Linked DNA regions of Homo sapiens. The protein of the gene in region 1 purifies or fractionates together with the protein of each later gene. This does not show direct contact. Each region holds a gene or a part of one and is shown on either strand. Other genes may lie near its edges. The genes, in order: PDK4 and COA7.

Region 1 (4,125 bases):
TCTTTAATAACAGATGGGAATAATAACTCAATGGCATAAAGAGTTTAAGACACTTGCCAAGGATTCCACAACTAGAAGTGACAGAGGCAGGATTTGAACCCAGAGCCCACTCTGTCAATCACTTTGTAAGTTACAAAGATTAGGCCTTCCCTAAATAGCAGTCATGTGAATTGGTTTCTAGGCATAGGATTTCTTTTGCAATATCAAACTCTTTTATTATTGAAAGTGCTCTTCTATAATTGAAAATTAAAATTGCATGCCAATTTTTTTCAAATTTTTCCTAGAACTCAAAATTTTATTATAAAGTAATCTACTTTTTCAGGGTAAAAATGTCTGTTTATAGTTTTATAACTTCTCTAATGATAACTTACCCTAAATTAATTTTAAAATTCTTACATCTTTCAAAAGTAGTTACCATTCAGATCACCTGTTTTCCAATTATGATGTTAACATAGTATAAGAATTCATACCCGGGTAACTGTTTCAAAACTAGAGACTTCAATATGGTTCACCACTTACCAGCTTTTAACCAATTGCACTGAAGAGGTATTTACTAATTGGGTCGGGAGGATATCAATTTCCTTCAGAATGTTGGCGAGTCTCACAGGCAATTCTTGTCGCAAAAATGCAAAAGAAGTTCTTTCACATGCATTTTCTGAACCTATAATAAATGAAATCAATTTAGTTTTGAGAAAAAGTGTGTCTAAATGATATATCTAAATAGCATTAACTATCAAATATTGAACACACATATATTATAAAATTATATTTCACTCTCAGTTGGGTTACTGTTAATCGATAATTCAGGGGCGATTGTCTCCTTAATTGACTAATTCCCTTCGTCCTTTCGTCTTTCCTTCTTTCTTTTAAAAAGTGACAGATATAGGAGAATTATTGTCTTCTCTTTTTGAAGAGGATTCACTTCCAAGAAGTAAGAATATCCCACAGTTCTTAGAATTTATAAAAGACTGCAGGATTCGGTCACACCACAATGTCAACAACACAACATCCTTTAATGAGTGGGGACATGGAATTGGAGTTGGGGGATAAGAGGCTGGAGGGGGAGCTGTGATATTTCCAGAGTAGTGATATCACATTTAAACCCTTGAAATCTTCCTTATAAGATTACTGCAACAAATGTGTAAATATTTTCAGCAACAATGCAAATATATGGAAAACTATAATGATAAAGAGACAAAGAAATCTGTCAGGAATGCAGAGAGATGTACCCTGTGGAAGGATGCCAGGTGGCTAAGGAATAAAATCTGTTAATTTGAGGCTATTTAATACTATTCAGAAACTTCTCCAAGCAGTACTATGCTGTGAAGGAGAGGATAAAGTTTCCAGTCCATTGTTAAACGGTGACCGAAAGCAAAAAGTATTTTGACTGGAAGAGCGGGTCAGAAAGAAGAGTGTGCAGATGAAGTCAAACCATCCAGCGTCGGCAGGCTTGCAGGTGGCCTTGACCTGGAGGCACCCCTGTCAGAAAGTAACCAAATCTAGGAAAAGGAAAGGTGTGCTGGCGTCGAGGCTCCAGGGCTCAGCAGCAAAGTGAACCCCAGTTGTTTTAGCTTGAGCCTAGCCCTCCCTCTACCAAGGCTGAAAGTTAAGGCAGTTCCCCAACCCTAGGACCCAGCTTGGGCCCTGTGTCCCCTCTCACCAAAGTCCAGTAGCTGCTTCATGGACAGCGGGGACGGGCTGTAGCGCGAGAAATGCTCCACCTCTCGGGGCACCAGGCCGGCGCCGTTGAGCGAGCCAGCGCTGCGCAGCACGAAGCGGGCCGCCTTCATCTTGACGCCCACCCGGCCTGGCGGGGACTGTGGCTGGCTTGAGGGGCGAAGGCTGCTCGGAGCAGAGCCTGGTTCCGAGGGGGCGCGGCGCGTCCGGGCGAGGACTGCAGGTGCGCTGGCTGGCTTGTGCGCCCCGGCCTGGGCTGGGGTTTGAGGGTGCCGCGGAGTGAAGAGTCTGGGCAGAGTCGGAGATGCAGTGGTTCGAGATTCAAGTTCAAGTCTTCCCACCAGCCGCCGCCGCCCGAGGTTTTATTTGTCTCCCCGCACTCTCCCCCCGAGTCCCAAACAGGAGGAGTCACTGGAACTTGGAAACGCGTCCTGAACTCCAGGTCGCGCCAATCAGATCAGAGAAAGAACTATGGGCTCCGCCCCTCCAGCCGCGGTCATCACAGAATGGCCTGGCACGGTGACCACGGAGTGCCCTGGCACCGGTGCCCGCGGCTGTGACGGAAAAAGGGTGGGAAGAACAGGGAAGAGGAAGCAGAAACAGGTATCTGGGGCAACGTGGGCTTAAGATTAGCCTCTTGGGACGGGGCTCCGAGTCGCGTGGGCTGGGGTCCCGCCCAGGCTCGCCCTTGTTTACAACTCGGAGGCTGTCTCAATGTCAAGTACTCCTGGCCACAAACTGTTTCCAAGAGTTTGGACTCCGCGTGCTCATTGGTCCTTGCTCAGAGCAGGGCTTTTACAGTAGCCAACAAGCTGCGTTCAAAAGTATGGGCTTCTCTGCCACTGGACAGAGAGAAAGGAATAAACAACCTAAAGACCTGCGCCCCCACCCCCACCGCCCCCTTTTCTTCAGAAGAGACCGGCACATGGCAGGAACTGTACGTTCCTTTTGCTGAGACTTGAGGGGCTGCCCAGATACATTTACTTTTTCCTGTGGTAATAAAAGGCCATCAATTCGTTCTTCTCCGGCAACACATTCTTTCCGTTAGGTTTAGTTCTGTTAATTAAAAACAAAATTAAAAAGGGATCAATTTGTCAGTTTGCCTTACCTTTTGCGGTGATCAGAGAATTTGTTCACTCTGCCCTGTACGAAATGTCCTTACTCCAAATCTTTACCTAAGACATTCCATTCTACCCTCAAATGTCTGGCACAAGCTGTCTGCTGCAAAAGGTCTTCCTTGATTACTTCTCCTCACTTCTTCCAAATAAGGCCTTGGTCTTTCATGGTACTATTCTATAGCTATTTATGTTTTTATATTATCCCTCTCTGACTCCCCCCTTTCCTGAAAGAGATCAGGGTAGGGACCCTGTCTGATGCAGCTTTGTGATTCCTACTTTTTCACTACTCAATATTTATTAAATTAATGACAGTGGTTGAGACACATTACCCTGTCATACTAACCTCCTTTTCCTCTCCCGACACTCTAAAAGGACTAGGGAATGAAGCCACCGTGTTTGGGAAAGTTGGGAGTAAGAGAGTTGGTTACAAATGTAATAGAATGGGAATTTATGAGGTGTTAAAAATGATAGTTTGTTATAAAAAACCTTTTTGGCCTCCTCCCCCTGCGTTTATTTTATTTTAATTAATTAATTAATTACTTTATTTATTGAGACAGAGTCACACTGTCTCCCAGGCTGGAGTGCAGTGGTGCCATCTCGGCTCACTGCAACCTCGGCCTCCCAGGTTCAAGCGATTCTGCTGCCTCAGTCTTCTGAGTAGCTGGGATCACAGGCACACGCCACCACACTCAGCTAATTTTTTCTATTTTTGGTGAAGATGGGGTTTCTCCATGTTGGCCAGGCTGGTCTCAAACTCCTGACCTCAAGTGATCCACCCACCTCGGTCTCCCATAGTGCTGGGATTACAGGAGTGAGCCATTGCGCCCAGCCTGCCCTGCATTTATAAGCAGAACGGGCAACTCTGAAAGTCATGAGTGATCCTAGGCTCTGCTGTCATCCTTTGCCCTCTTCGTCTAGGAGACTGCATTAAATCACAGGACAGATTTCCAATTCTATCTCTAGCACAAACTTTCTTCCAAGAGCCAGATTCTCCTATTCAATTGCCTATTTGGTTTCTCCATTTGGATGTCTAATAGGTATCAATTTTGCTTCTCTAAAATCAACACCATTATGAGGGATCTGAAACAGTCCTGGCAAACCCTGTGTCAGTTATGTGGCCTGTTTGGAGGCACCATATTAGCTCTCCTACTATTTCTCCCATTGTCTATACATTACCTATAGATGGTCGAGAATTTGAGACTTCCTGTTATGACCAAATATTTTTTTCAGACCTTTGAGAAACAGCTATGTGAAGACATGCAATATTTATGATCTTCCAATGAAGAGGATGGGGCCTGGGTTCTTAGAGAATATTCAAGGATGATCCAAG
Region 2 (3,600 bases), on another chromosome or scaffold:
TGCCCTAAAAATCTTCTGTGCTCCAATTATTCCTCCCTCCCCTCCCCCACCCACTGCTTTTTACTGTCTCCATAGTTTTGCCTTTTCCAGAATACATCCCAGTGTCATATAGTTGGCATCATTTAATATGAAGCCTTTTCAGACTGGCTTCATTTAGTAGCATTCATTTAAGTTCCTCTGTGACTTCTTATAGCTTGATAACTCATAATTTGTCATAGCTTGATTTAAGCACTGAATAATGACTACATGCACCACAATTTATTTACCCATTTACCTACTGAAAGACATTTTGGGTTGAGTTTTGGCAATTATAGATAAAGCTGCTATAAACATCCATGTGCTGGTTTTTGTGTGGACATGTTTTCAGTTCCTTCAGGTAAATACTAAAGAGCAAGATTGCTGGATCACATGGTAAGAGCTTACCTAGTTTTTGTAAGAAACTGCTTAACTGTCTTCCAAAGTGGCTGTGCCATCTTGCGTTCCCACCAGCAAGGAATAAGAGTTCTGGTTGCTCCAACTTTCCCAGCATTTCATGCTGTCGGTGCTTTGGATTTTGGCCATTCTAATAGTTGTATAGTGGTCTGTTGTTCTAACTTGCATTTTCCTGATGACATGTTATATGGAACATCTTTTCATATGCTTATTTGCCACCTGTCTATCTTCTTTGCTGAGATATGTTAAGGGTTTTGGCCTGTTTTTAATCAGGTTGTTTTCTTACTGTTGAATTTTAAGAGTTCATTGTGGTTTTTGATTTACATTTCCCTAATTAGTGATGTTGAACATATTTTCATGTTTTTTGACCTACAGTTTTGTGTGTGTGTGTGTGTGTGTTTTTTTGAGACAGAGTCTCACTCTGTTACCTGGCTGGAGTGCAATGGCATGGTCTTGGCTCACTGCAACCTCCACCTCCTGGGTTCAAGCGATTCTCCTGCCTCAGCCTCCTGAATAGCTGGGACAACAGGTGCCCACCACCACACCCAGATAATTTTTGTATTTTTAGTAGATACGAGGTTTCACTATGTTGGCCAGGCTGTTCTCGAAATCCTGACCTCGTGATCCGCCTGCCTCGGCCTCCCAAAGTGCTGGGATTGCAAGCGTGAGCCACTGCACCTGGCCTAGTTTTGTTTTTGTTTTTGAGACAGAGTCTTGCTGTGTTGCCCAGGCTGGAGTGCAGTGGCACAGTCTCAGTTTACTGCAACCTCTGCCTCCCAGGTTCAAGTGATTCTCCTGCCTCAGCCTCCGAAGTAGCTGGGATTACAGGTATGCATCACCACGCCCAGCTAATTTTTATATTTTTAGTAGAGAAAGGGGTTTCGTCATGTTGGCCAGGCTGATCTCGAACTCCTGACCTCAAGTGATCCACCTGCCTTGGCCTCCCAAAATGCTAGGATTACAGGCATGAGCCACCACGCCTGGCCTGACCTAGTTTAAGCACACCAAAAGCTACTTTACATTTTTAAAAAGTGAATTTGATGTCTTTTGAAATCTCCTCTGTGCACTTGGGGAAGTCCCTGTCCTCTATCAACTTGAGAGGCTGGCTGCTGTGCTCACAAGCCTTCATTTACACAGCAAGCCTTCCTTTCAGGACGGCTGCAAAACGGAAGCCTAAAACAGTAGATGGTGACAGAATGGTATTGTTACCAGCAGGGAAATGGCAAGCTCGCCCCCTGGTGACAAGCTGGGGAGACAACAGAAAAAGCAAATTTTTTTTTTTTTTTGAGACGGAGTCTCACTCTATCGCCCAGGCTGGAGGGCAGTGGCGCAATCTCAGCTCACTGCAAGCTCCGCCTCCCGGGTTCAAGCAATTCTCCTGCCTCAGCCTCCCCAGTAGCTGGGACTACAGGCGCCTGCCACCACGCCCGGCTAATTTTTTGTATTTTTTAGTAGAGATGGGGTTTCCCCGTGTTAGCCAGGATGGTCATGATCTCCTGATCTCGTGATCCACCCGCCTTGGCCACCCAAAGTGCTGGGGTTACAGGCGTGAGCCACCGTGCCCGGCCACAAATGTTCTTAAAAGGCACAACCACCACAAAGAACATACTCTCTACGGTACCTGGAATCTGGAAAGAACACTAATTAACACAAACCGTAGGTCACTCAAAATTGTTCATTCACAGGGACAGTTAAAAAGGCTCAGTTCCAGGGGACAAATGTGTCACAAAGTCCTTGCTTACAAACTCCTAGCTGAAGCTGCCTTGGGAAGAATCTGCTCCCTCAGCATGATGGGCAGTGCCAGGCGACTACACTGGAGGTGCTAATTTTTAACTGCCAATGTCTCTTCTAGACGATGGCAGGCTGATGTTTCATCTTCTTCAGCAACCCTGAAGCATAACAGCCTTTAAGCTGTATGTTGCACGTCCCTCTTGATCTCTGTGAATTTACTGAAAGATGTGACTCTAAAGGCAAAACGAAGCCCACACCAATGATTATGTAAGTCAGAGGGTGGTAGTTGTGACTATTTAACTGTTCTTAGTTCTTTAAGACCTCAATTACGTAAACCAAGATACGTTCTGATTTTCAAGCCATCCTAACCAAAATAATAATGATGAAAATGATGACAGCTGATTCCTTTAGGCCCCGGGGCTGCTAATTTTTCAAACTTCCTGCTATCCTCCCTTCCCTACTACCAATCTCCAGGGCTCTCTAGTTTGCTCCTATTTTTCACAGAGTTGCCAGAGTTTGAAAACTAAGACCCCCATAAACATGGCTATCTTCACAGAACATCCAGATGAAGGAATATTGACTGTAATAAACATTGTACAGAACACCCAGATAAAGGAATATTGACTGAAATAAACATTGTAGGCTATACTCCAGTAGCTGGGGCAATGGATCCATGTAAATGGAGCTACAAATTCAAGTCCCAAGTTTTTTTGCTCCAGCAGGTTGACCTTCAAGGGCTGCATCAGTCTTCAGAAACAGGAGCTGCCAGCCTCAAGCAGTTTGTTGCCTGGGAGGGAGGGTGGACCACATTACCCAAATGTTAAGGGTTGGACACCTTTCTGCTGTTCTTTGTGTAGCTGCTGGGCTCGATTTTTTAGCACCTCGGCCTTGGCCTCATCCTTATCAACACCATCCCCCAGCTTGTACATGCGACTGGCATTGGCACAGGCCCAGATATGACCCAGGTCACAGGCTTTCATGGAGTATTTACATGCCAGGTCCATGTCCTTGGGAAAGCCTGGGGCACCCTGCAGGAACATGGCACTGAGGTTGAAGCAACTGGAAGTATAGCCACCATCACAGGCCCTTGTGTAGTAGTCCCTGGCCTTTCCCAAGTCAGGCTGGCCATCCTCATTAACCTGTCCATCATGTGCCAGGAGGCCAACGTTGTGACATGCTGCTATTGACTTCTTTCCAGGCTTCTCACACGCCATCAAAAAGCACCTGGCGGCAGCTTTCAGGTCCTGGGTCAGACCACCTGAGAGGAAGGAAAGTAGGAAAAAATAAACCCAAGCCAGGGCACAACCTAAATGTCTCAGGCCAAAGTCAGTGAATTTTTTTTTTTTTTTTGGAGAAAGGGTCTTGCTTTGTTAACCAGGCTGGAGTGCACTGGCATGATCACGGCTCACTGCAGCCTCAACCTCCGGCTAAAGCAAT

Evidence for each region.
Region 2: the proteins of PDK4 (region 1) and COA7 purify together in Homo sapiens (affinity purification with mass spectrometry; 2 studies listed by BioGRID and IntAct, with this or other methods). This does not show direct contact.

The regions. Positions count from the first base shown.
Region 1 is NC_000007.14:95,594,504-95,598,628, forward strand, and holds the start of PDK4 (pyruvate dehydrogenase kinase, isozyme 4), read right to left. Parts: upstream 2,014-4,125; 5' UTR 1,791-2,013; coding exon 1,661-1,790; intron 662-1,660; coding exon 520-661; intron 1-519. UniProt on the Homo sapiens protein: Kinase that plays a key role in regulation of glucose and fatty acid metabolism and homeostasis via phosphorylation of the pyruvate dehydrogenase subunits PDHA1 and PDHA2.
Region 2 is NC_000001.11:52,684,748-52,688,347, forward strand, and holds part of COA7 (cytochrome c oxidase assembly factor 7), read right to left. Parts: intron 3,422-3,600; coding exon 2,973-3,421; 3' UTR 1-2,972. UniProt on the Homo sapiens protein: Required for assembly of mitochondrial respiratory chain complex I and complex IV.